Linked DNA regions of Homo sapiens: all the other regions are linked to region 1. The links come from fine-mapping of genetic effects on gene expression. A gene starts in region 1. Each other region holds a variant in brackets. All regions are shown on one strand. Distances are between the middles of the regions. Region 1 holds the start of GALNT2 (polypeptide N-acetylgalactosaminyltransferase 2). Region 2 has its middle 140 kb from the start of PGBD5. Region 3 overlaps GALNT2 (polypeptide N-acetylgalactosaminyltransferase 2). Region 4 overlaps GALNT2 (polypeptide N-acetylgalactosaminyltransferase 2).

What was found. PIP is the estimated chance that this variant, and not a neighbour inherited with it, causes the effect.
Region 2: its variant is the best candidate, but not a certain one, in a credible set for the expression of GALNT2 in whole blood (INTERVAL, PIP 0.51).
Region 3: its variant is the best candidate, but not a certain one, in a credible set for the expression of GALNT2 in whole blood (INTERVAL, PIP 0.82).
Region 4: its variant is the best candidate, but not a certain one, in a credible set for the expression of GALNT2 in whole blood (TOPMed, PIP 0.58).

What each region holds. Positions count from the first base shown.
Region 1 is chr1:230,064,222-230,071,701 of GRCh38, forward strand. GALNT2 (polypeptide N-acetylgalactosaminyltransferase 2) reads left to right here and starts at 3,017. Exons shown (of 16, transcript NM_004481.5): 1 at 3,017-3,185. The coding sequence starts at 3,060. RefSeq lists enhancers at 2,233-2,392, 4,747-4,826 and silencers at 2,523-3,332, 3,773-3,832, 7,277-7,457.
Region 2 is chr1:230,282,956-230,290,435 of GRCh38, forward strand. No RefSeq gene overlaps it. Among named protein-coding and RNA genes, the nearest start is that of PGBD5, 140 kb to the right of the region's middle. RefSeq lists enhancers at 3,494-3,993, 5,178-5,677. The variant G/A (reference allele first, on the strand shown) is at 2,491.
Region 3 is chr1:230,275,069-230,282,077 of GRCh38, forward strand. It overlaps GALNT2 (polypeptide N-acetylgalactosaminyltransferase 2), which reads left to right. Exons shown (of 16, transcript NM_004481.5): 16 at 4,235-7,009. The coding sequence ends at 4,390. Among named protein-coding and RNA genes, the nearest start is that of PGBD5, 150 kb to the right of the region's middle. The variant G/T (reference allele first, on the strand shown) is at 5,110.
Region 4 is chr1:230,258,301-230,265,780 of GRCh38, forward strand. GALNT2 (polypeptide N-acetylgalactosaminyltransferase 2) reads left to right here. Exons shown (of 16, transcript NM_004481.5): 12 at 4,273-4,365; 13 at 4,622-4,705; 14 at 6,941-7,067. It overlaps LOC124904542, which reads right to left. Exons shown (of 5, transcript XR_007066928.1): 4 at 1,178-1,463; 5 at 357-787. Among named protein-coding and RNA genes, the nearest start is that of PGBD5, 160 kb to the right of the region's middle. RefSeq lists enhancers at 6,816-7,316, 7,317-7,480. The variant C/T (reference allele first, on the strand shown) is at 4,121.

The DNA of each region.
Region 1 (7,480 bases):
ATTCTATTTTCCCTTCGCTCTTCCCCTTCTCCTCCAGTTGTCTTTAGTTGCACCTGTTCTAAGTTTATCAGAAAGTATAATGTATATACACTAGTCTTTCACCTTCTGAATATACAAAATGCTCTCCATTAGTCACTCTGCTGGCTTCCTCAGCTGTCTCTTGGTTGGAGGAAGCTCATTCTCTAAGATTCCTCATGAAAGGCCCATGTGAGTCACGTTCTCTGAATTTTTGCATTCAGGTCATATCTGTTTGCCTACAACCTTGACACTTGAGGGCTGGGTATAAAAATCACTGCCTGGTACTTTTTTGTGTGTGTGTCATGGAGTCTCGCTCTGTCACCCAGGCTGGAGTGCAATGGCATGATCTCAGCTCACTGCAACCTCTGCCTCCCGGGTTCAAATGATTCTTCCACCTCAGCCTCTCGAGTAGCTGCGATTACAGGCACCTGCCGGCTAAGTTTCATATTTTTTTTAGTGATGGGGTTTCACCACTTTGGCCAGGCTGGTCTTGAACTCCTGACCTCAGGTGATCCACCCACTCTGGCCTCCCAAAGTGCTGGGATTACAGGCATGAGCCACTATGCCCAGCCTGCCTGGCACTTTTGTTCCTTGTTAATGCTGCTCCACTGTTGCCTGGCTTTGCATGTTGCTGTTCAGAAGTCTGATGCCAGCATAAATTTTTATCTCTATAAGCAATTTGATCTTTTTTGCCTTTAAAATCTAATCGTTTTACTAAAATATATTTAGGAGTTGATAATTCCAGATCATTTCCCAAGGTACATGGAAGTCACTTTTGACATGTACATTTAAATTTTCCCTTATTCCTGGATTATTTTCTGGGGTTATAGTTTTAATATTAATTAGGTTTTATTGTTTAATGTTTGTACTTTAGGGACTCCACTTAACATGTATTTTGGTCTTCCTTTCCTGGCTTTTATTTTAACCTCTTCTCTCTGAACCTTTTTACTTCTATCTTTATATTATTTTCAATTTCTTGATTGTTTTCTTGCCATTCTTCAGTGTCCTTTTACATATTTTCATTTGAATATATTTTCCCTTGGACACCTTGTAATTATTCTTTGTTTCTGGGATAGTTTTTGTCATTACTTTCAATTTCCTTCTTGAATTTGCTCAACCCTTGTTGCATTTCTTCCTAATTTTTGTCTAGTCTGTCTTCAGTTCTTGAAATTTCTTATCCTAGATATGTGTGTGTGTGTGTATGTGTATACAAATACGTGACACTTTGTTCAGTTTGACATGTGGTATTACAATTTTCTTATGCTTCATGGTTTTTATTGTGGGGGTTTTCATCAGCGAAAATGTTATGATTTATTTTTTATCATCAGAAATGTGATTTCTGTTTTCTTTTTGCAGAATCTTTAAATGCAGTTGATTTGATGTTTTTCTGTTACTAGGCATTTTGAGGCAGGGTTCCCGGTTCAAGAGTGTTTTCTTTTATCTGTGTACTGAAATGCAGTTTTTAATAGATAATGTTGGTGTTTGGGGAGGGGACTGGCTGTCTTCTCTTTCATTTCTGCAGGATTTGTAATTTTCCCTTCTGACTTCCTTCTTTCCCTTCATTGTCAGGCCTCTGAAGGACATTATCTTCTTTTCGTATTTATCTGACTTTTTCCCAGAAACAAGGCTCCTTCAAGCCTCTCACCTCTTGTCCCATTTTCTTTCAAATCTCTTCCCTTGATCAATAAGGCACCTGACCTCTGTTCAGTTTTTAGTTCTTGGTGTTGGACTTTCTATTTATAAAGAGGTGACAACCCTGTACTTCACTTAAGTCCTTGGCAATAGTGGAGGGAGCTCAGTTGGAATTTGGTATCTTTTCTTTCTTCTACTTAAGTAATTTAATGTTCAGTTCATGGCATTCTCTCTAAGTAATGCTGAAGGCTTGTTTTTGTTTCGTTGAGGATATGGGTACGGACTTATATCAGGCAGCTGCCATTATCCTCTGACCGAGAAGCTCCTGAAAACATTTAATATATCAAGTTCTAAGTAAAATTTCTGTCTTTCTTAGGAACACTGGAAGCTTTGCGTGTTGCAAGGGCATCACCAAGGTTACATAGATTATGTTACAAGACAGATCGTTTTCTTGTATCGTTAAAGATGCTTAATGTGCTTTTTAAAGAACGCAACGAATGAGAAAGAAAAGATTTTAAACAATATATTATTGCTTTCCTTCTTCCTCATTTTGTGTTTATTGAAAAGAACAACTCTACCATTGATAGCTCTGTCACCCACAGAAAAATGTTCTTTTGAAAATTACCTTCTCAGTTCCTACCAACTCAAAACCTCCACATCTGCCTATATAGATAAATAAAATCGATACCAGCGGGTCAGGAATGTTTTGCTGCAAGATTAGTGAGAAAACTGCAGCAAGCAGCAGCAAAGTCGGGTTCAAGCGGGCGGTTTGCACCAAAAACTCAGGTCAGTTGGCCAATAAGAGCAAGCCCGTTAAGGGTCTGAGGTGGCCCCAAAGACCAAGGCTGAAGAGGTGACAGTCTGGGCAGGAAGCACCGAGGCCACTACCGCCCCCGTAATCGAGAGGCCCCGTGTGCGTGAGCAAGGCTCTTTGCCCACGTGTGCGCGCGCTCCAGTCGGGTCCCGGGGCAGCCACCTGTCACTCACGGGGGAGGGGGCGGCCGGCGGGGGGAGCACGCTGAGGGGCGGGCGGCCGGGGGCGGGGCGGCGCCCAGGCCCTCACGGCGGAGCCCGGCGTGCTGCAGCCATGGAGACGCGGCAGTCCCCTCCCGCGGCCCGCGCCCCGGCCCCCGCAGCCGCCGCCGATTGGTCGCCCTTTGCTCCCTGACCCCCCTCGCCGCCTCCGAGGCCGCTGCTTCCTGCTCTGGTGCCGCGCGGCGCCGCCGGCCCGGGGCGGAGCTCGGGCGCCGAGTGCGCGCCGCCGCCGAGCAGTAGCACCGCGCGGGAGGAGGAGCCGCCGCCGCGCCCTTCCCCTTCCTCCGCTCCTCCCCCGGCCCCCACCGCGCCCGCGGCCGGCCCAGGCAGCACTCGCGAGCAGCGGCGGCCCCGCCGGCGGCCGAGTTGGGAGAATGCGGCGGCGCTCGCGGATGCTGCTCTGCTTCGCCTTCCTGTGGGTGCTGGGCATCGCCTACTACATGTACTCGGGGGGCGGCTCTGCGCTGGCCGGGGGCGCGGGCGGCGGCGCCGGCAGGAAGGTGAGTGGAGCGCCCTGCCGCGGCCGGGCCCCTGCGCCCACCCCCCACCCTGCGCCCCTGTCCCCTGCCCTCTCCGCGCCGCCCCTGCGCTCCTCCGCCCGGACCTCCGCTCGCGTCGCCCGCCCTCGTCCCGGGCCTCCGCGCCGAGTGCCCAGGGCAGGGGTGCACCCGGCCCCTCTGCGCACGCCGGGCTCCGAAAGGGCGGCCCCCGCAGCCTTTCTCTGCCCCCTCTCGTGGACGTCGCCCCTCTCTCTGCTCGTCGTAATTCGAGTCTTGTCCGGCCGCCGGGAGCCCCATCCCCTGCGGTTGGAAGTTTAGGGATGGGGGTGTTGGGAAACACAAAGGGGGTGGGGAGGAGAGGAGAGAGAGGCGACCGCTTTTCCAACGCGTCATGTACAGCAGGAGAGAGGAGTCCAAGTTTCTTTTCAGCCCTTTGATACCAGCGGCTGCAAATCCTCGTCCCTTTCCCCCTGTCACTCCGCGGGGCGTGGGTTCCGTGTTTCTGCCACCTTCTTTGCCCTTTACCTTTGGGGGGCAGGGGCGGCCGCTCCCGTGCCAAGTAAAGCCCCAGGGCCCGTGCGAGCCAGGGGCCAGTGCGCCCCTGCGCCCCGAGCGAGGCCAGTCCCGGCCGTTCCCTTGCGGCCCCAGCGTTACCCTCTGCCCAACCCGGCCCCCGGCCCTCCCGCGCGAGCCGGACGTGGCCTCCTGCGCTTGCATTTTCCATCCCCACTCCCCGCTTCAGGGAGAATCCCTCTTCTGTGGCTGTGTTTTTAACATGCTCCAGGGGCCGAGTGATCTGGCTGTGGGGACCGTGTGAGCCGCTCTGCGGTTCCGCGTCCTCGTGCCGCCGCTCCGGACGGCCGGGCCCTGGGCATTCGGGAGGATGGTGAGCGCCGAGAGGAGCCGGGACAGCGCGGTCCTGCGGCCGAGCGCCGGCCGGGAGAGCAGGGCGTCGGGCTGTGTGCTGGAGCATGCCGGCAGGGGACGTTTGTAGTGTTTTACTGGCTCCTCGGCTTTGAAAGCAGCGTTATCTTTTCCGAATTCCTGTAACCCTCGTTACTGTGACATTTAGTGTCACCGCAAACCCAGAAAATTCTGAGTTAATGGAGATGGACTACGGGTGGTTGGGTTGGAACAAGAGAGTGGTATCCTGAAACAAGCCAGAGGGAACTAACTAGATGAACAGACTTCAGTTCTGAAGTCAGACCCCTAAATGTCCACGCCGGGGTTTGGCTGCTTCAGAGGTTTTTTCTTTGCTTCATTCATTCATTCATAGCCGAAGATGTTAGGTGGAATGGGTGCCTTATGTGGTTTCTGGTAAATTACGTGGATTTGTTTTATCTAGAAGGGCAGAAATAAAGCCCTCTTTCCACGTGCTGAATCGGCCTAGCTTCTGAGCTGACATTGTACTCTTAGCGTTGTTTTTGTAAAAAATGGTATAGGTAGTATATGTACGCGAAGACTTGGTTTATTCTTGAACAGCAAAGAGCATGCAGGCAGCAAAAGCCGTGCAGTCCATTCAGAGATATAATCGTGTAAAACTGGAATGATTTTTAAAACTTTGCTTCCCGGTAAACTGTGCCTTGGCCACTCTGCATAGCCTGGTGTGCTGGTGAGACCTGGCAAAGCTTTCTGCCTTTCATGCAAAGAAAACCAAACACATAAGCCACCCTTGGCGTTTCTCTTTCCTTAGTCTGCCACTTTCATTAGTACACGTGATTAGAAAGAGCAAGCGTGCTCGTTCGCCTCCCGGAGGCTGATTCCTCACTCTGGTGGGCTTCAGTTCCTGGATGGTGTGAGGGGTCTTCCATGCAGAAGTCTTCAGACACTCCTGAAGTGTGTGATTCTTAGTTTGTTTTTTTTTGTTTTGTTTTGTTTTGTTTTGTTTTTTTTAAAGAATTCCTGGTGGCAATATAGACAGGTACGGAGACCAGGTAGAAAAAGTGGGGGAAATGAACAATTAATTACACATGGATTGGTGATTTGGGATTCTATTCTTTCTGTCAACGAACCATAAAATTTAATGCTACCCCTTAGGATGCTTTAGTGATTTGTCGGTTGAGGAAGAGGTGTGTAAATGCAATAGCTTTTGAAATTGCAGTGGAAGACTCATTAACTTCGTGTGGTGGACCCAGGGTTAAAGAGAAGCCTTAAGATGGTTTCTGAAGGAGGTAAATAGAGCCCTGCTGTCACGAATGCCTGATGTATAGGAAAATCGTGTAGTCTTCTTTCTTCCCCAATTGTTTCCATGGATTTAGACACTAGAAGTGTCTCTAAATTTATTTCATTCTCATACCAAAAAAAAAATGTGGTTTGTTTGGCTTGTAAAGTATGGACATAAAAAAAGATAGCGGGCCATGCACAGAAAGGCAGAATTTAAAAGCTAGCTATAGTTTTTTTAGAGATAAGTGGACCTATATTTTTTCTCTTGCCTCATACTGTTCAAGTCAGGGCTTTTATTCCATATTTAGCCAGTTTCTGCACATCCTGACGTTTTTCATAGGGTACTAGGCTGCAGTATTGGGCTTTAGGGATCGTCTGAGGGGAGTCCAACTAGGATTTCTGCTGCTTCAGCAGCCCAGCCCAGGCTTGTCATTGTGTGCCCTGCCTGTTAAGTAACTCATCACAGAACTGTTATTCTCCACTTGGCAAAACCCAGAGAGCCAGCTCACCTCAGATTGCAGGTTTAGTAAACTAAGCAGGAGGGAGTGCTGAAGACCAATCTCAGGCACTGCCGCACAACTCGGGACTCAACACCCAGGCTCAGGACATGTATGTTAAAGCAGTTTATTCAAAATATTGTTTAAAATTATGTTTCATTTACATTTGTGTCCATACCCTTTCCCCCCATATTTTGCTCTTTCCCCCTAAATTGATGATTTGCACTTCAAGCGTGCCTTTCCTTTGAGCTTCTTAAATGCTTTAAAATTTTAACCATGTTAAGTCTCCCCTGGGCTTTGGTACGTTGGCAGTGGATGGAGCCGCAGAAGAGAGGAAGGGATTTCTCTGGAAATGAAGCTGCCTGTGGGTGAAGTGTGGCTGTTTAGGGTGGAAAGGGAAGGGTTTTCTCTCTGCTGTAAGAGTGTGTGGAGCCTGAGACCCCTTGCCTGTGTGCCTGCATGCTGGGAGGTAAGGGACGGTGTTAGTTGAGGGACATGATCCGGAGCCCTGGGAGCCTGTCCACTTTGCACAGTAGCATCACCCTTATTCCCTGAGCTGGCACGAGTCCTGTGGCCCTTGCCCGAGAGTCCAAGGGTGGGGGACTTTGGGTGGGATCTTCTAGGAATCATGCGGGGAGGCGGGCAGGTTATTTCTTGGAACAGTGAAGGACCTTGCCGGGCTAGACCATGGTACACATGGAGGGGAACGTTAGGGTGTAAAGTTGGAGAAATTCAGAACTAAATTGTAACGGGCTTCAAATGCCAAGCTGAACCATTTGGGAACTAGTAATGTTTTTGAGCTAGTAGTAGACATTAAAGGGAAATGGCACAAATCCACTTATTGGCATTGAGTGAGACCTAGCTGTTTACCTCTTTGTGCTTAGTGACCTTCACTGATGCATTGAACCTCTCTGACCCTCAGTTTCCTCATCTTTGCAGTGGGAGTAATCATTCTTACCTCATGGCCTTGTTCGGAGAGTTAAATACTGTTAGTGGGTGCTGAATAACTGCTATCTCTAAAAGAGGAAAATGAAAAAATAAAAGCCTAAATATCCCCTTGAAAGTGTAGTGAACCAGGAATCTTAAGTTCACGGTATTCCTGATACAATTCTTGATTTCTGGAAAATAGTCGTCTTTCTTTTTTTTATCCGTTACCCCCACCTCTGAGATTGATCTGACTGGTTCATTTGGGGTTTGGGCTATGAATCTTAAATGCTGTTAGAGACGGACTTTTTGGGAAGTTGTCCAGACACCATGCCAGCTCTCTTGTACCCAATTGTGGTGTCAGAATGGGGATCCCAGTAGTGGGCAGCCATCGGGAATGTGGGTGGAGGGTGCAGCTTGCCTTGGCGGTTAGGCAGTTGTAGTGTCCAACAGTGGACAGACGTGTCCCTGAACGAGGGGTTCCTGTGGTGGGATCCCAGGTTCTGAGCTCCACTGCTCTCCCTCTGTAGCCCTGCCCCTCTTGTTAGAAGGGCAGGTCGCTGTGATCCCTGGAAGCATGCATGACTTGAGGTGGAGCATGGGGCCCTCACGTGGTTTAATGGGTGCCAAAAATCTGTGAGCATCTTGGTGGATGCGGAGGGGAACACCCATACCACTCCTTGCCACCTATCATCAGTTTGGAGTTTAAAG
Region 2 (7,480 bases), 220 kb after region 1:
CCCAGCTATTCAGGAGGCTGAGGCAGGAGGATCGCTTAGCCCAGGAGTTTAAGACCAGCCTGGGCAACGAAGTAAGATTCCCATCTCAACAACAGAAGCAAAAGTACCTACATTTGAACAGCCCCACAAGGGTTCAAGGAAACATAACCTTGACCAATTATTTAACAATTTTTTTTTCAAGACAGAGTCTCACTTTGTCGCCCAGGCTGGAGCGCAGTGGTGCAATCTTGGCTCACTGCAACCTCTGTCTCCTGGGTTCAAGTGATTCTCCTGCCTCAGCCTCCCGAGTAGCTGGGATTACAGGCCCCCACCACCACACCCGGCTACTTTTTTGTATTTTTAGTAGAGACGAGGTCTCACCATGTTGCCCAGGCTGGTCTCAAACTCCTGACCTGAAGTGATCCACCCGCCTCGGCCTCCCAAAGTACTGGGATTACAGGCATGAGCCACCGCACCTGGCCCAAATTATTTAGCAATTTTGATTGACATTGGGGTGAAGTAGGAGGTTGGCCACTGGCAGGACTGGCCCAAATGAGTGTCTGAAACCTTCTAGAGACCACATGTAATCCATTTTCTTTCCCTATTATTTGGGACACCAAAAATTTGCTGCCATCTGAGAAGACTAAAGGAACTCTCAGCATCGTTTTGTAGCACCCACTGGAGCCCCTTAGGGATCCCGTGTGTGGTGCCTGCTCTGGCAACAGGGAGAGGTTTATTTATTCGGTAACTATTTGTTGAAAACCTGTGTTGTGCTGATAGTCCCAAAGAAGACCCAGGCTGAGGAGGAAACACGTTAAATGGTGACAAATAGGACAAGCCAAATGCAGGCTCTCGGCCTGGCGGGTGCTGCACCCTTGTTGGAGCCGTGTCTCAAAGGTTCTGTGGGATTCGGACTTGGCGAGGGAGAGCGTTGCCGGCAGGGGCTCAGCGTCTGAGAAGTCCCATCACCAGGACATAGCAGCAAGATCCCCTGATGGGGACAGCCTGGGAGGAAGAGGACAGACTGGCAGGCGGGCCCGTGTGTGAGCATTGTGAATGCTGGGGAAGGCTGTGGGGGTGGGGAATGACAGGAGTTCCTGACTGGAGCAGAGAGGGTCAGACTTGCAACGCTTTTCAGAATGAAATATCCAACCCAACTCAGTGATTGGATTCTGCGGTATAACTTCACATTGTCAAGAATATTCAACCAGAAAAATAAAATGCCTCTGACACACTCTTCTGTTCATGGACTTACCTACAGAAGAGAAGAAAAAACTCTCTTCTCAGCAGTTCTTGCCTATTTCTCAGCAATCTCCTAATACAATTGCTGTATTTGATTTTATGCATTGTTTGTGCCTGCAAATAACATACATCCTGTTTCCAAAAGCTGTCGTCTCCCCTAGGGTTCCAAAGAGGAGTGTTCGCTTAGCAGTTTCTGCCTGAGCTCCTGGGGTCCCAGGCTAGGGTGGTCTGGACAGGGGCTACAGAGAAGACCTTTTGGTCCTCAGCCCAGGTGACACCCACGGGTGAGTCAGATTTGAACCAGACTCTGGATGCAATTATAAGGAGCATTGTAGAGCAGTAGCCATGATTTCCTCTTCAGGAATAAAGACCCAGTCTCAACAAGGTGCCAGCCTCCTGAAGGGCGTGGAAAGAACCCTTGCGCGGCACCGAAGCCACTGATTCACATTCGCTGCGGAGTTTCCCTGAGACTGTCCTTCTTGCTCTCAAGTTGGCAGAATTGTCTATTGGAGAGCTTCCATAAAAAGCCCACCTAAATGGAGGCGAGATTAAAAGAGATGTTGTCTTGTATAACAAGAAATCCAAAGGTGATGGGATTCCACGTTGATCCTGGGGCTTGACATTGCTGTGGACAAACTGCTCCCTATCCGAGCGCCCCTCCCCTCCATCCCCTCCCACCGTGGTTCATTTAGTACAGTGGGTGCTCGGGTCTCCGTCTGTTCACGTTGCTGTAAAGGAATATTGGAAACGGTAGGTTATTTGGCTCATGGTTCTGCAGGTCGTACGAGGAGCATGGCTCCAGCGTCTGCTTCTGGGGAGGCCTCAGGAAGCTTCCACTGGTGGTGGAAGGCAGAGGGGAGCAGGCATGGCATGGCGAGGGGGGCGGGAGGAGCCAGGCTCTTTTCAACAATCAGTTCTCACTCACTCCTGTGATAATGGCACCAAGCCATTCAGGAGGAACCCACCCCCACAGTCCAAACACTTCCACCACGCCTCACCTCCAACATTGAGGGTCAGAGTTCAACATGAGACTTGAAGTGGACAAACGTCTAACATTTATCACTGAACAGACCTGGAGCGTGCTGCCTCCTGTGCATCTTTGTTTTTTGACTTAGGGAAGATGCACCTTTGCCAGTGACCACCCCACCCCTTAGTCTCCCCACCCCTTAGTCTCCCCACCTCTTAGACTCCCCACCCCTTAGACTCCCCACCTCTTAGTCTTCCCGGGTCGCACTGCCCAGAGCCGGGTCCTTGGGAAGCCGGGAAGCA[G/A]TCACCTCCCACCTCCTCCCATGTCATGGAAGTGGGTTTTGCTGGCAAGGAGGACAGGGAAGGGATGACTACTCATTGAGCAGCCCAGTGCCCACCACACTTGCCATCACTGGAAGAATTCTGGCAGCAGCAGATGGACAGGGGTGGCAGCGTGGTCTCAGGATTCCTTCATCCTAAGAGAGGCAGTCGCAGACCCTGTTGAGCCCCTTCACCCTGTTGATGCCATGGACTCCTTTGGCGTGAGCCATCAACTCAGGGCCTCCTCTCAGAAGGTGTTCAAATGAATAAAACACATTGATTACATGGGATTATAAAGAAGTCTAATTATGCCAAGACACAGTTATCAAAATATTTTCCTAATATGTGCTTCTTAATGCATTAAATAACAAGTCTTCCTGTCTAATTGCTGCCATAATTTAAAGTAGTGATGAGCATAAACAATGTTTTGAAAAAGCTACAATAATTAATGTGATGAAAATATCTGTGATTTTTTAATTAGTGACAAAGTTCCTATTTTGTTGTCGACATTCGTTGTAGAGTGTTCCATTTCAGTTGGAGGTTGTGAAAATAACAATATCATTTTTCCCATCTAAGTTGCTGGACCCCCTAAATTCTAAGCATCTCCATGTCGGTGAGATGCATGGTCCCCACTGTCCTGGAGCCTCCGTGACTTTGTCATCTCCCTGCTGCAGGGTCAAAGGGGTGTTCTCCAGCGCCCAGGCAGCTGCCCAGAGCTCTAATCCTGATTCCAAGAGCAAAAACGGGAACAGACCGCCCTTGAGGACAGGCGCTGCTGGAGCCAAGAGACTCACAGTCGGTCACCTGATTTGCATTTATATTGAGAAATCACAGCTGGAGGGTACCCTGGCAGATGGGTGAGGCTGAGCCACTCAGGCTCTAGGGAAGCCACGCTGTCCTCACAGTGCCCACCCATTGATCTGTGACACGTGGGCCAAGGGGCGTGGGATTTTGCTGGTCAGCTTCTCTCCCTATTGAAGCCGCATGGGAAGGAAGTGGGCAGAAGACTGCTCGGCAAGCAAGGAGCCAGAGTACTGAATGCAAGGACCTTCACAAAGTGCCTCTTGAGGTGGAAAGACGGAGGCGTTTCTGCGCCGCTGCGTGGCCTCAGCCACGAAACTGTCATTCGGAGACTGCTTGGCCTGGACTCCAGCTCAGGATATGCAGAGTGGGTGCTGCCTGATGCCTCATCTGGGCCTGCCAGGTCTGCGGCAGGAGGGCGGGTAGGATGGGAAGGAGCCCATCCTGGGACAGAGCATGTAAATGCATAGCCACCACTGTCGGGTGCCACACAGGAGTGAAGTCCAGGAGTGAAAAGAAACACTTGAGGGAAAGGAAGAGGGGCGAACAGAGGAGGTGGCACTGGGTGCGGCTTCTCAGGCCCTGGAATGGGTGTCCCACCCTTCAAATAACCTCTCATCTCTACACAAAGACGTTACCCCATTTTACCCCTGGGGAAACTGAGGCTCTGATCAGCTAAGTCATTTGCCTAATTTACCCACACAGTGCCAAGTTAAGCACCCAGGCTGTGACTGTCCTCTTCCTGGTCCGGTGGGGACACGGGGACAGGAGGTGATGGGAAGTGAAATGGGCCTTTGGTCGTAGCCAGGGGAGGGGCAGTGACTCCCGTTGCTAACAGGGAAAGCTGGAGTCGCCTCCGCCCGCCGGCTCATGAGGGCTGGAGGGGAGGAGTCAGGAGACTCAGGGGTGGGAGAGATGGGCTCCACCGCTGCATCCTGCCACCCACCACCTGTGTCACCATGGGATGTCACTGAGCCTGCTCTGTGAAATGGGAACCCTTCTGTTCACCCTGGAAAATCATTGTCAAGATCAGAGAGGAAGCACGAAAAGTGCCTCCTGGCCATGCAGTGGCTCCACCTGCAATCCCAGCACTTGAGGAGGCCAAGGCAGGAGGATTGCTTGAGTCCAGGAGTCTGAGACCAGCCTGGGCAACATAGTGAGACTCCCATCTCTACAAAATAATAATAATAATAAGCTGGGCATGGTGATGCACCCCTGTGGTTGGGCTACTCGGGATGGCTTGAGCCCAGGAGTTTGAGGCTGCAGTGAGCCATAATTGCACCACTGTACTCCAGCCTGGAGCAAGACCCTGTCTCAAAAAAAATTTTTTTTAATTTGCGCTCTGATCTAGGCCAGCCCAGAGCTGCAGCCCCGGCCCATGAGCCTCCCCAGCTTTCCCGGCAGGTCTGTGGGCCGTCCAGAAGGAAAGGGACTGGAGCAGGGGAGCCAATGGGATTTCCACATCTGCCAAGTCTTCAGGGAATGTGGGATGGCACGGGGACCCGGGAAATAAGGGTGGAGGTGTCAGCCCTGCATTTTTACAGCCTAGAAGTGACGTCAGAGACCACCAGAGAGGGGGACGGCAGAGAGAGGGAGGACAGGGGCCTGGAAACACAGATCCACACACAGGCTGGAAAGGACCGAGCAAGACACTGCTGGCTGGGCAGAGGCAGCTGGAAGGAAAGGAAGGAAGGTGCGGGACAAACGAGGCTGCCCCACGGCCCGAGCCAGAGCACAGTGAGCTCTGGGAAGAGGTACCTGGATTTTTGGCAACAAGGAAGTTGGTCCGATGCCAGCAGGTGAGGAGCATCCTCCTCATGTGAGGAACACGGGGCTGGAGCAGGGGAGGACAGGGTGTGTGGCCACTGGTTCAGGTGGGGATGTCTGGGACGGACCTGAGAAGCTGAGGCTGATGGGACAGCGAGGGGACAGAGAACTCTCCGGAAACTTCTGGCTCCGGGGCAGAGGGCCGAGCTAAGGGGTGGCATGGGTAGCCACTGTTTCCCTCCCACTCCCCCAGCCCCCTGCACTGGGGATTTTGAGGCTGTCTGCACTTCATATGTTTGAGAGAAACCCACGATTGTAGAGCTGAAGATGTAGAATTTGGCCCGCAGGTAACTGCACACCAACCAGGACCAGCCCTGCTCATGAGCTTCACTGCGGCACCCATTTCATCACACAAGGGGCCAACCAGAGGCCAATTCAGGAGATGTCAATGTCTGTGTGCCTCCACCCCAAAATTCATAGATTGAAATCCTAACCCCCAAGGCAATGATATTAGGAGGTGGGGTCTTAGGGAGGTGGGCAGGTCATGAGGATGGCCCTGATCCAGTCTGACTGCTGTGCTTATAAGAGATGATGACACAGACCCACACAAAGGGGCGGCCACGTGTGGACGCAGGGAGAAGACAGCCGTCCCACGCCATGGAGAGGCTTCAGGAGCAACCAACCCTGCAGACACCTTGATCCTGGACTTCCGGCATCCGGGGCTGTGCGTTGTGCAAGCCCCCCCGAGCCTGCACTGTTTTGTTCTGGCAGCTCCAAGCTGACTCATACAAGCCCAGAGCCCTCGCAATTCCCACACGCCACATGCATGGCTCAGCTGCACCTCCTGCCAGCTCCAAACCTCACGGCACAGGGTACACACTTGTGTGTCCATATGGTCAGCTTTCAGCACTGGACAGGGCTTCTAAGGTCCCATCCCATGACATGCTCCCCTCACCTGGGTCCTCCTTCCGACACTCCCAACATGTGTTCTGGCATCAGCTGGGGGGCCATGCTTGTGCTGGGAGCTTAGAAGATGAGAGCTAATGTTCACTGGGCACCTGCCATGCTCCAGAAATGATGCCAGCTTCTCATTCAGGGCTCACTTCCACCTTTCAACAGACGGACCAAGTAGGACTTAGAAAGCTTAAGGCATATGTGAGTCATGTCAGAACAGGAATTTGAACCCAGCTCTCAAACTTCAAAGCCCTGTTCTTTGTATGACACTTGTGCTTCTCAAACCTTGCTGCATATTCCAATTACCTTGGGAGTGAAACAACAACAATGCAATCCTGCAGTCCCTGGAGCTAAGGTCAGCTGTGTTTGCAAAGCTCCCCAGAGGCTCAGAAAGTACAGCTGGGTTGGAAACCAAACCAGCGCTTCCCCAACCTCAGTGCACAGCAGAGTCTCCAGGAGAGCTTGTTAAAACCGAGTCCCGGGGCCCAGTCCCCAAGTTCCTGATTCGGCAGGACTGGGGTGGGATTTGAGAATTCATATTTCTTCTCTTTCTTTTCTACTCCTTCTTCTTCTCCTTCTTCATTTTTTTTTCTTTCTTTCTTTCTTTTTGAGATGGAGTTTCCCTCTTGTCCAGGCTGGAGTGCAGTGGTGTGATCTCGGCTCACTGCAACCTCTGCCGCCTAGGTTCAAGTGATTCTCATGCCTCAGCCTCCAGAGTAGCTGGGATTATAGGCACCCACCACCATGCCCAGCTAATTTTTGTATTTTAGTAGAGATGGGGTTTCACCATGTTAGCCAGGCTGGTCTCGAACTCCTGACCACAGGTGATCCATCCGCCTCGGCCTCCCAAAGTGCTGGGATTACAGGCATGAGCCACCATGCCTGCCCTCATCTTCATTTTTTTTTAGAGACAGAGTCACCCACACTGGAATGCAGTGGTGTCAATCATAGCTCACTCCAGCCTTGAACTCCCAGGCTTGAGCAATCTACCCACCTCAGCCTCCCGGGTAGCTTGGGACTACAGGCACACAACACCATGCCTGGCTAATTTTTTGTATTTATTGTAGACACTGGGTTTCACTATGTTGCCCAGGGTGGTCTCAAACTCCTAGTCTCAAGTAATCACCCACCTTGGCCTCCCAAAGTGTTGGGATTACAGGCATGAGCCACTGTGCCTGGTGGAAGTTTATAGTTCTAATGACTCCTAGGTGATGCTGATGCTGCTGGCCTGGGAACCACACTTTGAGGAGGCACAAGGCACTTAGTTCAGGCCGTGGCTAGTTTAGACAATAGGGATTGCCCACACTTCATACCAAAGGGTTATTACTGAGTTGCATGGCGGCCTGGAGAAGCGGTAGTGGGTAGGGCTCAGGTTGTGGTTCTGGGGCCGGACTGCTTGGTTCATGGCCTCAGGTCCGCTATTCCTGTGCCCTTGGATGCTTCATGGCTC
Region 3 (7,009 bases), 210 kb after region 1:
TATATATACACACCACATATATATACATGTATACACACCACATATATATACATATATATACACACCACATATACATATATACACACCACATATACATATACCTGCCACATATATACATATATAAACACCACATATATATACATATGCATGCCACATATATGCATATGTAAACACCGCATATATACATATATACACACCACATGTATACGTATATATAGATGCCACATTTATACATATATAAACGCCACATATATATACACACCACATATGTATACATATATATACATGCCACATATACATCTATAAACACCACATGTATACACGCCACATATATACATATGTAAACACCACATATATACACACCACATATATATACACGCCACATATATACATATATACAAACACCACATATATATACATATACACACACACACCACAGATACATACATATATATACATGCCACATAGATATACATATATAAACGCCACATATATATACATATAAACACACCATATATATACATATAGATACATGCTACATTTATATAAACACCACATATATATACGCCACATAGATATACAAGCACAACATATATACATGCCACATGTATACATATGTAAACACCACATATATATACACACCACATATACACACCACATATATATATACAAACACCACATATATATACATATATACATACACCACAGATATATACATATATATACATGCCACATATATATACAAATATACATGCCACATATATACATGTATATACATGCCACATAGATATACATATATAAATGCCACAGATATATACATATATAAACACCACATATATACATAGACACCACAGATACATACATATATACATGCCACATATATATACGTATATATACATGCCACATATATATACGTATATATACATGCCACATATATATACGTATATATACATGCCACATATATATACGTATATACATGCCACATATATATACGTATATATACATGCCACATATATATACATATATAAACACATATATACATATATAGACACCACAGATATATACATATATATACACACCACATATATATACATATATACACACACACACATATACACACAGTTTCTTTAAACATTTCAGAATAGACTTTCTACCTGCCTTGTAAGCCGGTTTTCTCTGACGTATTCCCTTGTGGCAGCTTGTGGACACACCCTTTCTCAAGGCATGGGGTAACAGTTAGTGTCAGGAATAGAAATGCAAGCACAAAAGGTCCTCCCTGTATGCCCATACTTGGAGTGCCTGCCCCTGTTCTTACAGTCGGTCCTTAGAGATAGATGGGATGTAGGGAAACTGAGGCACAGAACCTACTGGAGCCAAGAGCCTAAGCCAGCTTCTAGTCTAACCCTGATTTCACAACAGAAAAGTCTCAGAAAGTCATTGCCTCCACCCTGGAGTCATCTGGGAAGACCAAGGCCAGGACCGAGTCCCCGGTTCTGACCCCAGTTGTCAGGGAGACGCCTGCAGAGGGCCCTCTTTCACCTGTCTGTCTCCAAACCCCTGCGCCAGCTCTGGGTGCTCCTCCTTCCCTGCTCTGCAGAGTCCCAGCCTGTCCTGGCAGTGGGAGCCCCTCTCTAGGGTTCTGCTCACAATCCGCATCTCTAAATGTCCATCTGTGTTGATGACTTGATACCAAAATGTGTAAGGGAGTGCCTGTTAAACAAGAGAAGGCTAGCACCGCTTGGACCCAAACCACCTAGAAATTGCCTCACTCATTGGCCCCTCGAGAGGAAGCTCCTCGAGGGCAAGGCTGGCATCTGCTGAGCCAAGTACTGGGTGAGTCTCAAACACATTCCCCTGGGATGTAACGGAGCAGAGATGTCTTTGGATGTAATGGATTGATAAAGTGATGACTTTAGTTGACACCTTTTTAAAAAACAAATATTACTTCAATATTGCTTAATTTCAAGAATTGACAGGTGTTTCTGCTTCAGTCCCAGTTTTGGGGAACCATAACTGACACGGCTTAGGACCTTTGTGAAGCATGAAAAGACCTATAAATAATAAGTTTTTCTGGATGTATGGCATGTATAAATGGGGATCTGTTAGGTTTTAAACCCCAAGACTCAGGCTATTAGAGAGGATGTGGGGGCTGTTTCAGTAGAGTCTGACTGCCTTGAAAATCTGCGCTCCCCACCCCCAACCACAATCCCATCAGACAGACAGATCAGAGCCCACAAGGCCACCTGTGCGAGACGGAGCTGGGGTTTTGTTGTTGTTTTTCTAAGGTTCTTGATTTAGCTGATGCTTTGACACATGACAGGCAGTCCCTCCAGTGGCCAGAATCAGATTCCGTTCATTCCGAATTCTTTGTTGAGAAGATTCCTGGCTGCTCAGAGTAACAGGGCAGCCTCAATACATACACACTTTACATGACAATGGGGAAAAACAGCATGAGGGGTGATTGACAGCAACGAGGGAGCTGGAAATGAAAGAGGCAATGACAGGCACTTAGCAAAAGCCTCCCCGGCTCCTCTGATTGCACTGTCTTTCCCTGCTGGCAAGAACTCCAGGTGAGCAGGTGGACGGAAATAAGGAAAGCAGGGTACAAGTGACAACATCCTTGTGGTGTTTCGCGCAGGTCGGGTCCCCAGCACTGGGCTCCTCTGCCTGCACCGGCTCCTCCCTGCCTCACTCACTGGCCCCTCAAGAGGAAGCTCCTTAGCAAATTTTATCTTGGAACTGAACTGGCTTTGCCAGTTGGAACATTTGGTTTCCAGGCACGTCCATGTTTTCATATGTTGTGCATATTTGCAGAGTCAAAGGGGAAAGGGAGGCAGGAGTGAGAAAATTTAATTCTGCAATGTCAAAAGGATTTGCAAAAAATACTTAGGTGAAGGAGCTTTCGTGCACACAGTATAAAAAATTAATTAGAACCACAGACTTCATTATTTGAAACGAGCTTTGGGGAAGAAAAAAATGTTACTTTTTTTTTTTAAGAACAAACATTAGAGATTTTTAAAGGGGGATTTTTCTGTTTTTCTTTCTTTTTTTTTTTTTTTTTAAGAGACAGGATCTCACTCTGTTGCTTAAGACTGGAGTGCAGGGGTGGGTATGACCATAGCTCACTGCAGCCTCGAACTCCTGTGCCCAAGCGATCCTCCCACCTCAGCCTGCAAGGAGCTAGGACAACAGGCATGCACCACCATGCCCTGCTAATTTTTTTTAAAAAAAATGTTTGTAGAGATGGGTTCTTGCTATGTTGCCCAGGCTGGTCTTGAACTCCTGGCCTCAAGCGATCTTCCTGCCTCGGCCTCCCAAAGTGCTGGGATTAGTGTCGTGAGCCGCCTGCACTCAGGCTGAAAGGGGTATTTATGTTACTTGCTAAACAGGGCTCCTCAGATTTCCTTCAGGCTGGGTTGTGCACTTTGATTCTGGCTTAGTTGGTGGGTAACGGGTATGTGGGTTGAGTTTGGTTGTTCGCTTGATTTGAGTGTTAGTAAAGAGGCATCGTACCCTGTACTTTACAAGCGGCATGTTCAGAACTCAGCAAACATTGGTCCCTGCCATACAGAGCACCAGGGGGCTCAAGGGTAGCAGAGACAAGTTTCTCATATCCACCAAGGAGCTTGCACACCAGTAGAGAACAGACTACATAGAAATAGGCTTCTCAATGCTATGTTCTGTTCAAACAACCATCTCTCTTCCTGACATTTGGCCTGACACCGTTCCTCTGGCTCCCCCGAGCAGAAAGCCCTAAGTGGGAGCATGGAGGTGCCCAGACCAAGGCCTCCAGGCAGGGCTGCTTTCCAACAGCCAGGGGAGGATCTGGCCCTGCATTGTGTGGATCCCTTCTTGGGGTGAACCATCACTGGATCAAGCTTTCATACGAAGGCATGCAAATTCCCCTACATCAAATCCTGTGTTAATGACGAAGGGGTGGGTGCCCAGAGCTCTGGGGCTCAGAGGAGGGGACACCCACAGAAAGTTTGGGGCAGGAGACGTTCTGAGTTTTGATCCAAGGCAGAGAATATGTTTCCTTCCTGGGTCCCAGCAGCACCTGTGGCTGGTTTCCTGTGGGGCTGCTGCAAGCTCCTCGGCCGTTCAGATGAGAGGCTGGGAAAAACGTGTCTATCTGTGAGTTTTTAATGCAGCCACAAGGTCCTGAATTCACACGAATCTGTTTGTACTCCTTTGCTTGTGCCCACACTCTAAGGCACTCTCCTGTGTCTTGCAGAAATGGGAACAGATCGAGGGCAACTCCAAGCTGAGGCACGTGGGCAGCAACCTGTGCCTGGACAGTCGCACGGCCAAGAGCGGGGGCCTAAGCGTGGAGGTGTGTGGCCCGGCCCTTTCGCAGCAGTGGAAGTTCACGCTCAACCTGCAGCAGTAGGAGGGTCCGGGAGGCCCTGCCGTCCTGTCTCCTGCACCATTGGGTGGAGTCTGGTGATCACATTATTGATTATGTTTCTTAAACTTTCCGCGAAACTAATATACCTCAGTATTCCATCATGGTCTGAAAGTCAAACTTCGGCAAGGCACGGACGACTGTGCAGACACAGCAGCGGCAAGAAGCGAGAACTGCCCTCCCCCTCCTCTCGGTGCAGCCCAGCCGGGCCCCCTTCCCCAGGCCGGAGCGCCCCTCTTCCTTCCAGCTTTCACTTCTGCCGGCTCCGCAACTGAGTGACACCCAGCGACAACCGACTGGGGAGTGGTAGAAGCAACTGAACGGATGCGTGCGAGCTGAGGACAGGGCGGGAGGAGGGGGCACACATGCCCCAGGGGAGCGAGGAGAACTCTTGAAATCTCCATTTTCAATCCCTTCGAAATCACGTATGGTTTCCACAAAGCCGAGTCGTGTCACGTGGCAGGTTTACGTCAATAGTCCCTCTCTCTGCTCCTCCATTCGCAAGTGTCTTCCTGGGCCAGACTCCCCTCCACCTCATGTACTTGCTATATTGAGGATGAAGTTTTCTATGGTGGGACACTAAATATAAAGCTATATAGAGAAAGAATGTACGGTCAGTTCCCTATGGTTTCTGTAGATCATCGTCATCTTGTATATTCCCCACAAAGCCGTTCGCAGCTTCCGGGAGAAGGGGCCAGAGCCCG[G/T]TGGGGCCAGTTTCTCACAGAGGGAGGAGGTGGCCTTTGTCCCCTGGAGCCCGATCAGCCAGTTGGTGCTACTGCTGTGGCCAGCTGGGGGGCTTCCTCCAGACCACCGGCCTCGGCCCCGGCATCCCTGTTGGGCGTCAGCCTGAGAGTCCCTACTGTGCGTCAGAATCCACCTTGCGTGCTGTGCGTATCTGTGAACCTGGAGCGGTTACTTATTTTGACAGATATCACTTTGGGTCTTTTTACATTAAATTTCTTTTCTCTAAGGAATATAAGACATACCCCATAGCTCTGTGTGAGCCAGCAATACCGCTGCCCCCTGGCGACAGGGCAGACCAATGATGCCAGGCAGCTGTCACACGCTAGTATTGGCTTCATTGTGATCTGAGCCCTGCACGCTGGGCCTTCAGAATTAATGGCCAGCAGTGTCAGGGATGAGCCCGTCAGCCAGGGCACAGGCCTGGCTCACAGTCCTGCACACCTGCTGGCCTGGGGAGCTCCAGCCAGGCAGCGAGTCCTGCCCCGCCCGCAGCTCCCTCCCACACCCCGCCTGGCCAAGATGACTGCTTCAGGGGGCTTTGGGGAAAGAATTAGGAAGGGTCAGAACCAAACAATACCTGCTCATTTACACTGAGGATTCAGGGCGGGAGACAGGAGCCTTGGGGTCCTGTTAAACCACAGACAGTTATGAACTGAAAGTCATAACGGGGAGAGGTGCCTGGCTTCTACCTGGGTGCTCAGGAATGTTCCTCGTCACCCCTGCCACTCTGTGGTCGGTGCCCTGCTTCCTCCTCCACTCCTGGCCGCCTTCTCCAGCGCCGCACACACAGATGCTCAGTCTCAGAGAGGCTGGCACGGCCTGGCAGTCTGAGAAAAGCGTCAGTTAGGCACACCTGCAGGCCCCTCGGTGGGACAGCGGCGGCCTTGGAGTTAGGAGCCACCCTGGGAGGTTGTGCCGGTGCCATGCTCCTCCCTGTGTCTTGTATGAAAGGGGCCACTGTGTGTCTTCCTCCCCGGCGGGAGCCCCACATGTGTGCACTGTAGGACAGCGGCCCCGAGGTGGAAGCCTGGCTGGAGGGCTGCCCTATAGGTCTTCTCTTCCCGCCTCCCCTGCCATGCAACCAGATGTGTTGTGAGTGGGCAGCGTGCCCCCACGCTGGAGTAACTCCGCACGCTTCTGTCTTTCACGGTGGGCGCTCGGGGGGAGCCTGAGGAAAACCCCCTTAGGTACCTGTGCGAGGCTGTGGAGTGCAGGCCAGAGCAGGGTGTGCGTAGCCCCCAGCACCCAGGTTCTTCTGTCAGACCCTGTGACCTGCGAGCTGCTACTACTGTAAGGAGGGAAATGGATGAATCTGGCTCGTTTTAAAATCACGTTTTCTGACGAATCCTTTGCCCCTTCACCTTTACCCCGCCCGCACCCCTAGGCCCTCTCAGCCTTCCTATCATCCCACGTGTCTACCCAGACCCTTGTGCGGCCCATGCCCTGGGGGCGGCGTCCTGTCCCTGAGCTGGGAGGCGGCTTTGGATGGTCCGGGCGTCAAGAGCAGGGGTGGGCCGGGGAGGGGTCCTTTGCGGTGAGCTATGTTTACATGACACAGTGTGCCAAAGTGACTTACTGCGGTTGCGTTAGTTTTTAATCATCAGGACTATCTCACCCTCCCACTCCTGTTTTTAAAACTCAGAATTCTTTCCTAAGAGCCCTTCGAGCAAAGCGTGCCGAAGTTAGTTGTCTTCTCTGTGCTGGTCCTTTCTTATGTCCTCATAAAAGCTCAGATGATGGTATCTGTGAGTATGTTTTGCAAATTCAAAATATAGTTTGGTAATTTTTTTTTCCAGTTGATTTTTAAAAAGAACTGCTGTACAGAGCTTGTACTTTGTCCATTTTATAGATGGAAACCAT
Region 4 (7,480 bases), 190 kb after region 1:
CTCACCACAACCTCCACCTCCCGGATTCAAGCGACTCCCCTGCCTCAGCCTCCTGAGTAGCAGGGATTACAGGCATGCGCCACCACACCCAGCTGATTTTGTATTTTTAGTAGTACATTTCTCCATGTTGGCCAAACTGGTCTTGAACTCCTGACCTCAAGTGATCCACCCGCCTCAGCCTCCCAAAGTGCTGGGATTATAGACGTGAGCCACCGTGCCTGGCCATTTTTAAACTTCTTAAAAGTACAGATTATACAATACACCTATTATACAGAAGTCAGATTTTTCACATAGGGAATCTGATTTCTGAGAAAACTTTAATAGAAGGCAAAATAACAAGTAATGCTTCTGACCAAATTATCTTCTCTCAAAAACTATGTTTCTTCACAAATGTTGAAACTTCATTTTTGTTCTTTATTAAAACAAAAATGTGATCTTGTACAATAAGCTTTACAAAATCAAACAAAAATATGGATATATGTGCTTTTTCCTGGGGCAGCATGAGATTCTTTATATAGACATATCAGACGCCCCACACCAAAGCCATTGATACCTACCAGCAAACAGTGAGATTTCAGAAAACAGTATGTTAAAGTACTCAAGACATTGCACTCTTTGTTAGAAGAGAAACATTTTCAAATTGTATTTCACAGCCCAGGAGCCTGTATTCTCAAGATTTGGAAAAGAAGCTGATCCAGGGTTTCATTATTTTGGGGCAGCATGGATCTGATTAAAAAGCCCTGCTGTTGACCTTCAGCCAGGTTGCTCTTTACCTCAGTTGACTCATCTGAAAGATAAAGAAGTGGAATTATATCACTGTATTTCTGAGGTCTCTTTCCAGCTGCAGTTTCTCTTAATCTCCTATACAGGTTGAATATCTTTTATCCAAAATGCTTGAGACAAGAAATATTTTGGATTTTTGACTTTTTCAGGATATGGAATATTTATATGTACTACCTAATGAGATATCTTGGGGCTGGGACCTAAGTCAAAGTACAAAATTTGTTTGTTTTATATAGACCTTATACACATAGCCTGAAGTTAATTTAATACAATACTTTTCATAATTTTCTGCATGAAACAAAGTTTGTGTACATTAAACCATCAGAAAGCAAAGGCGTCACTGTGACCGCCCACTGGATTCACCTTGCCCGCTGCCCAGATGGAGCTGACTTACCAAGATGGGAATTGCAATAGAGAAAGAGTTTAGTTCACACAGAGCTGGCTAAGTGGGAGACTGGAATTTTATTACTTAAGTCAATCTCCCCCAAAATTCAGAGGCTAGGGTTTTTCAAGGATAATCTGGAGGGAGCTGGGGACTAGGGAGTGGGTGCTGCTGATTGGATGAGGTGCAATCATAGGGGTGTGGAAAATGGTCCTTGTGCCTGCCGAGTCTGCTTCTGCATGGATGGGTCCACAGGACAAGCTGGAGATCTGGATGGAGTCATCAGAAGTGCAGAAGCCTGAAAAGACATTACAAAAGGCCAATCTTACGTTCTGCAATGGTGATGTTATCTGCAGGAGTAATTGGGGAAGTTGCAAATCTGTGGCTGATTTGTTAGTCCAACAAAGGCAGTCTGGTACCCAGACAAAAAGAGGGTTTGTTTGGGGAAAGGGCTGTTACCATCTTTGTTTTAAAGTTAAACTATAAACTAAGTTTCTCCCAAAGTTAGTTCTGCCTATGCCCAGGAGTGAACAAGGGCAGTTTAGACGTTAGAAGTTAGATGGAGTCAGTCAGGTCAGATGCCTTAAACTGTCAATTTTGTCATTGTTAAATTTTTTGCAAAGGCAGTTTCGTCACTATCTCATGTTGGTGCTCAAAAAGTTTTGGATGTTAGGACATTTTGGATTAGGGATGCCCAACTTGTAATAGATGACATTTAATATTTATTTAATACTTATTTAATACTACCTAAATACTTGCAAATACCTGCAAAAACAAGGAGGGCCTGGACAAAAGTGAGTCTCCCTCGGTGCCACTGTATCTGCAGCACTGAGACTGTTTGGTGTAGATACCAAATAAATACCTGAGTGAACCAATAAATAAATGAATAAAAGGAGCTAGCACTGAGTAGCACATGGAGATCATTCCTTGGGGCTGCCTAGTTATCCTTTTCTATTACAAAGACAGAAAAGAGTTGCTTTGCGTTTAGGAATTTTTAAGTGATTTAGTCACTTAAAAACTTGAGTGATTTGAAAACAGTATGACTGGAGTTGATAAAACCTTTAAATCATTAAGGCTGAAAGGAACCTAGGACATTCTGGAATCAAATCCTTTCATGTCCCTGTTGGGGAAATCCAGGTGCCAGATGTTACAAGTATTTAAGTTAATAACTGGTTAAAAACTGACTAGGCATAGGTTAAGGCATAGGTCACTTAGCAAAACCCCACTAACAATGTTTAGTGGCTCTTCTGAGAAATGATATGTATGATCCAGTATCCCCCAGCACTTTAAGTACTCATTGTTGTATCTGTATATTTTTTAATAGAGAGAAAGTAAAAATTCATCAGTCTCATCACCAAACCAGTTGTGCCATAACACTCTCATAATTTGATGAATTCGTCTGTCAGTATCTATTTCTGTCTCTCTCTCTTGTTTGCTCACTGGCTCTCCTTCTGCCTCTACACACATATCCACTATATGCAATTCTGCAAACTATTTTATTTTCCCACAAGTCCAGGACATCATTTCTGTCAACATGTAAGATGCACACTCATGTTTTTAGTGGTCACAGAATATTTCATTTGATTCCTTCCTCATATTTAGTCATAAAGTTTCTCTTTTTTTTTTTTTTTTTTGCTATTATAAACAAAGCAGAAGTGAGCATATTTTCACATGTATATTTCATTCCTAATTGATTGCTGCCTTGAGATAAATTTCTAGAAGTAGAGCTGCTGGGTCAGAGAATAGGTGCATTCATATGTTCTTATCTGTGTTGAATGGCATTATGGATAATAGTCCATATTCTACTTACTAAAATGAAAAAGTATATATATCACCTTATATGAAAGATATAGGCCCCATACAGAAATTATTTTAATAATGGTATCTCAGATCAGTTGAAAGTTTCGCCATTTTAAGGAATTATTTTAAAAGGCGAGCATTACCTCCTTACTGTATTTATTTTGGAAGAACACAGTGCCTTCCTATGGGGTTCTTAAGGAGGGCTAGCTATAGCCTGAAGTGGGAGTCCACCTTATAGCCGAGACCAGAATATGGGAGCAAAGAGGTTAGCTGTGTGCTTGCTACTTCATGGATGCTTTAAGATAATTCTTGGCAGAATACACTGCTGATACCTATGCAGATGATAGCTTTTAATGCATGTCAGACATTCAAGAGTAGCTTGTCCCAGGGGCTTTATTTATGGCAAATCATGGTTCTCTCTATGAGATTTAAGTACATGGTTTTCTTTCCTTCTAGAAAAGCCGGCTGGGCGCGGTGGCTCACGCCTGTAATCCCAGCACTTTGGGAAGCTGAGGCGAGTGGATCACAAGGTCAAGAGATCGAGACCATCCTGGCTAATGTGGTGAAACCGTCTCTACTAAAATTACACAAAAATTTTAGCTGGGTGTGGTGGTACATGCCTATAGTCCCAGCTGCTCAGGAAGCTCAGGCAGGAGAATCGCTTGAACCCGGGAGGCGGAGGTTTCAGTGAGCCGAGATCTCGCCACTGCACTCCAGCTTGGCAGCAGAGCGAGACTCCATCAAAAAAAAAAAAAGCTAGTGCAAACATGGCAGTCTTTCAGCTTAGCCCCGCAGAAAAGAAAGTGATTTTCCCAGGAACTCTTATCTTATGTAGTCTGAACTTTAATGCAGAGCTGTCTGATAGTGTCGTAGCCGTGACGGAGAAGGCCGTGGGGCCTGGAATCTCCTTGCTGTGCTCTGTGGCCCCGGCCCTCTGTGGACGCGTAATGTGAGAGTTTTTAAAGAGTAACTTTCTTTTGTCCTTCTTTAAGATATAGACCCCAGTCCCTCCTTTAAAATATTGGCTCGTGCTGTAATTTCCACTTTGCCTTTTGCCCTTTGACCATCTGTGTGACAAGAAAGCCATTCCAATGGTTCAGTAAGCACCCGCTGAGGCTGGCTCCCCACAGGTCCAGCTCGAGGTGCTGGTGGGGA[C/T]AGCCCACCCTCTGCTGTGTGCCGTGATCCCAGCTGGAGCTGCTGCACACCCAGAGGGAGCCGCCTCAGTCACACGCCAGCAGACAGGTGCAAATGGAGTGATGCAGACAGAAAGAAAGGAAATCACACCTCAAGATTTATTTTCTTTCTAGAAACACCCGCCGGGCAGCAGAGGTCTGGATGGATGAATACAAAAATTTCTATTATGCAGCAGTGCCTTCTGCTAGAAACGTTCCTTATGGAAAGTAAGTGGCAGTTCTGCCTTCTCACAATTACTGGGGATTCTTGGGGTGTGGGGGTGGGAGGTAAGGGGCTGCCCCCAGCGTTGAATTCAGCTACCCAGGTGCCAAGGCGGGAAGGGGTTGTGGGCACAGGAGCATGGGCAGTCCACACCACACCACCTGCCCCAACCCTGTTCTCCTCAGCAGATTTTCAAGTTTGATGTAGAAAGCCCATCTATTCTTAAAATTTATAAAGGAATCTTATTTCCCTCTTCTCCAGTATTCAGAGCAGATTGGAGCTTAGGAAGAAACTCAGCTGCAAGCCTTTCAAATGGTACCTTGAAAATGTCTATCCAGAGTTAAGGTAAGTCCCCAGGGATCTGGGGTTTCACTTTGTAAGGGCTTAGAAGCCAGTAAGGCCATAGAAGCAGCAGAGGGGAAATGGAGGTGGGGCTGCAGGCATGAGATTGGGCACCTGGGCCCCAGTGAGAGCCTGTGGTCTCACTCCATGGTGTGGAGCTGAGAATCTGCTCCCAAGTTGGCCTGCTGCTGTCTCTGTCCTGCAGAGCTGCCCTCCCATGCTTCGGAGTCCCAGAGGCAGTCCCCCGGGCCTCACCTTGTTTTTGGCTTGTTCTCCATTGGCAAGGTGATGGGCTGGGTGACCTGAAGGACTGGTGTCTGACAGGCTCTTCGAGTGACCAGGAGCAGTCCCCAGCCTCCGCAAGCATGCAGTGTCTGCAGCCAGCCCTCGATCCCCCCGCCAGGCGCCTTTGCATGCCTCCGATCTGCTGCGCTCACCCTTGCTGCTCCTGTGGGCCAGCAGATAACAGCCCCCACGAGGCTCCCTCCTCCCAGCTAGGTTAATCACATGTGAAACGGAAGTAATAATGCTGCTGCCCCACGTCCCTCCGGAGGATTCATGGCAGAAACACCTTTCTGAGCATTATTTCCACACCCAGCCTCTTGTTTTAAGCGAATACGAGCTCCCCATCTGGAGGGACCTGCTGATAACCTCGTGAGAAGACCTATAGATCCGCTGGGGTGGAGGAGCCATCTGCACTTCATCTTCTTAAAGGGACTGTCAGGCAGGTCGTGCCTTAATGCGGCACATTCCTTATTCTAAATATTCCCAGAGCATTTTACAGCGGCTCACATATCTCCAGCACAGTGCCTGCGAACGCAAGACTTGCCACCATTATCTTTCCGCTAACAGCTCCTTCAGAGCCCTTGTCACGGAGATTTGTTGGACAGTTAGGTAATGCGGCCTCTCTCTGTTGCTCCTGTTCGCTCACTTGGCTCTTTGGAACCGTTTCCTCTGCTTTTCAAGTAACATGCCAGGCGCCAGGTGGCCCATGCCCCCTAGGAGGAGAACAGGAGAGAACACAGCGTCCTTCTCCCTCGGATCCCTGCCGTGCAGGACAGCTTTTGCTGGGGATTGAGAGCACCAGATGGTCACCAGCGATGGTCACCTGCAGCGGCAAGGGTGCACTGGTCACAGTTGCTGGTTGCAGGGCCCTGGTCTTCTTCCTGCCAGCTCTGTCCTCTCGGCCATGTGCACTCAACCCAAAAGAACCCATTCTGCCTCTGTGTCTGGCCCCAGAATATGATGTCTACACCTCCTGCCTGGTGTCCCTATACAACAGATTCTTGACTGTGGGCACTAAGGCGGCTGCTCATCAACTCTCCGTCAGCCAAAGAGGGGCTTCAATTCAGTGGATTTTAACCCAACCATGCCACTCACTTTGCTTTTTCAGTCACAGTTGACTGCCATTTCTCACAGAGGTCACCCATGGTTTGTAGTGACACTGGGCCCCGCACCCACTGAAGACCACATCTGAGGCACTGAGCACCATCCTGGCTGGCAAATCTGCTTCCCCTGTCTGTGGGGGGTGAGGGAGACATCAGCCTCGTGTTTTGTGTCTGTAATATCACCGCCGTTTACTGAGTGCCTCCTACGAGCCAGGCACTGGGCCGTGTGCTTTACACGAAATGTTCTATGTAACACTTGCAGCAGATCTGGGTAGCCCATAGCCTACCAAAGGGCAAATCGAGCTTCAGAGAAAGTGAGTCTTGCCTGAAAGCCAGCACCTGGCAGAGGTGGGCTGAGGTTTGGATCTGGTTCTGAAGCACGTTGTTCTTCCCCGTGGCTGTGGCTTTGTTCACATTAGACCACCTGACAAGTCTGCCCACCTTTCCCGTCTTTACTGGATAAAGGTCAGATCCTAAGTGTATTGGAAAGTTCAAGGCAACAGGATCTGACCACATTGATTTTCTAAATGACTTCCAATAAGACTAACATTGAAGAGTATCAGGAGCTTTTCCTTCCTTTCCAAAAAAAAAAAAAAAAAAAAATGACCTGATATAGAATATAAAGAATACTTCTGCAACATACAGTCTTAAAGTGTTGGAAGTCCAGAGCCTGGGAGAAATGCCGTGTCCCTGACACACACTACCTGTGGTAGGAAGAGGCACGATGCCTAGTCACTGGGTCTTTCTCTCGTTCCTGTCACCTGTCATGAGGCCACTGAGCAAAGGGGCTGGTGGACGGGAGCTGGTGGTCATGTGCAGTGAAGCAGGTGATTCTCACGTTGTTTTTCAGGGTTCCAGACCATCAGGATATAGCTTTTGGGGCCTTGCAGCAGGGAACTAACTGCCTCGACACTTTGGGACACTTTGCTGATGGTGTGGTTGGAGTTTATGAATGTCACAATGCTGGGGGAAACCAGGTATGTGCATGGGGAAGCCAGGTCACCTGCAGGCCCAGAGAGAGCAGGAGTTGGGGGGGTCCTGATGTTAGAAGTCCCAGCTGCCACCTTTCTCCTGGGATGGGTGATGTCTATGAGGAAGCACCTGGCTCCTGCTGGCCACAGCCTCTTTGGCAGCCAGCACCAGGGCCAGATAGAATGTCACACACTTTGGTGCATCAGCTCTGTCATCAGCTTCGGACCAGGCTCTGCTGCAGCGGCAAGGGTGCACTGGTCACAGTTGCTGGTTGCAGGGCCCTGGTCTTCCTGCCAGCTCTGTCCTCTCGGCCATGTGCACTCAACCGCAAAGCACCCATTCTGCCTCTGCGTCTGGCCCCAGAATATGATGTCTACACCTCCTGCCTGGTATGCCTATACAACAGATTCTTAACTGT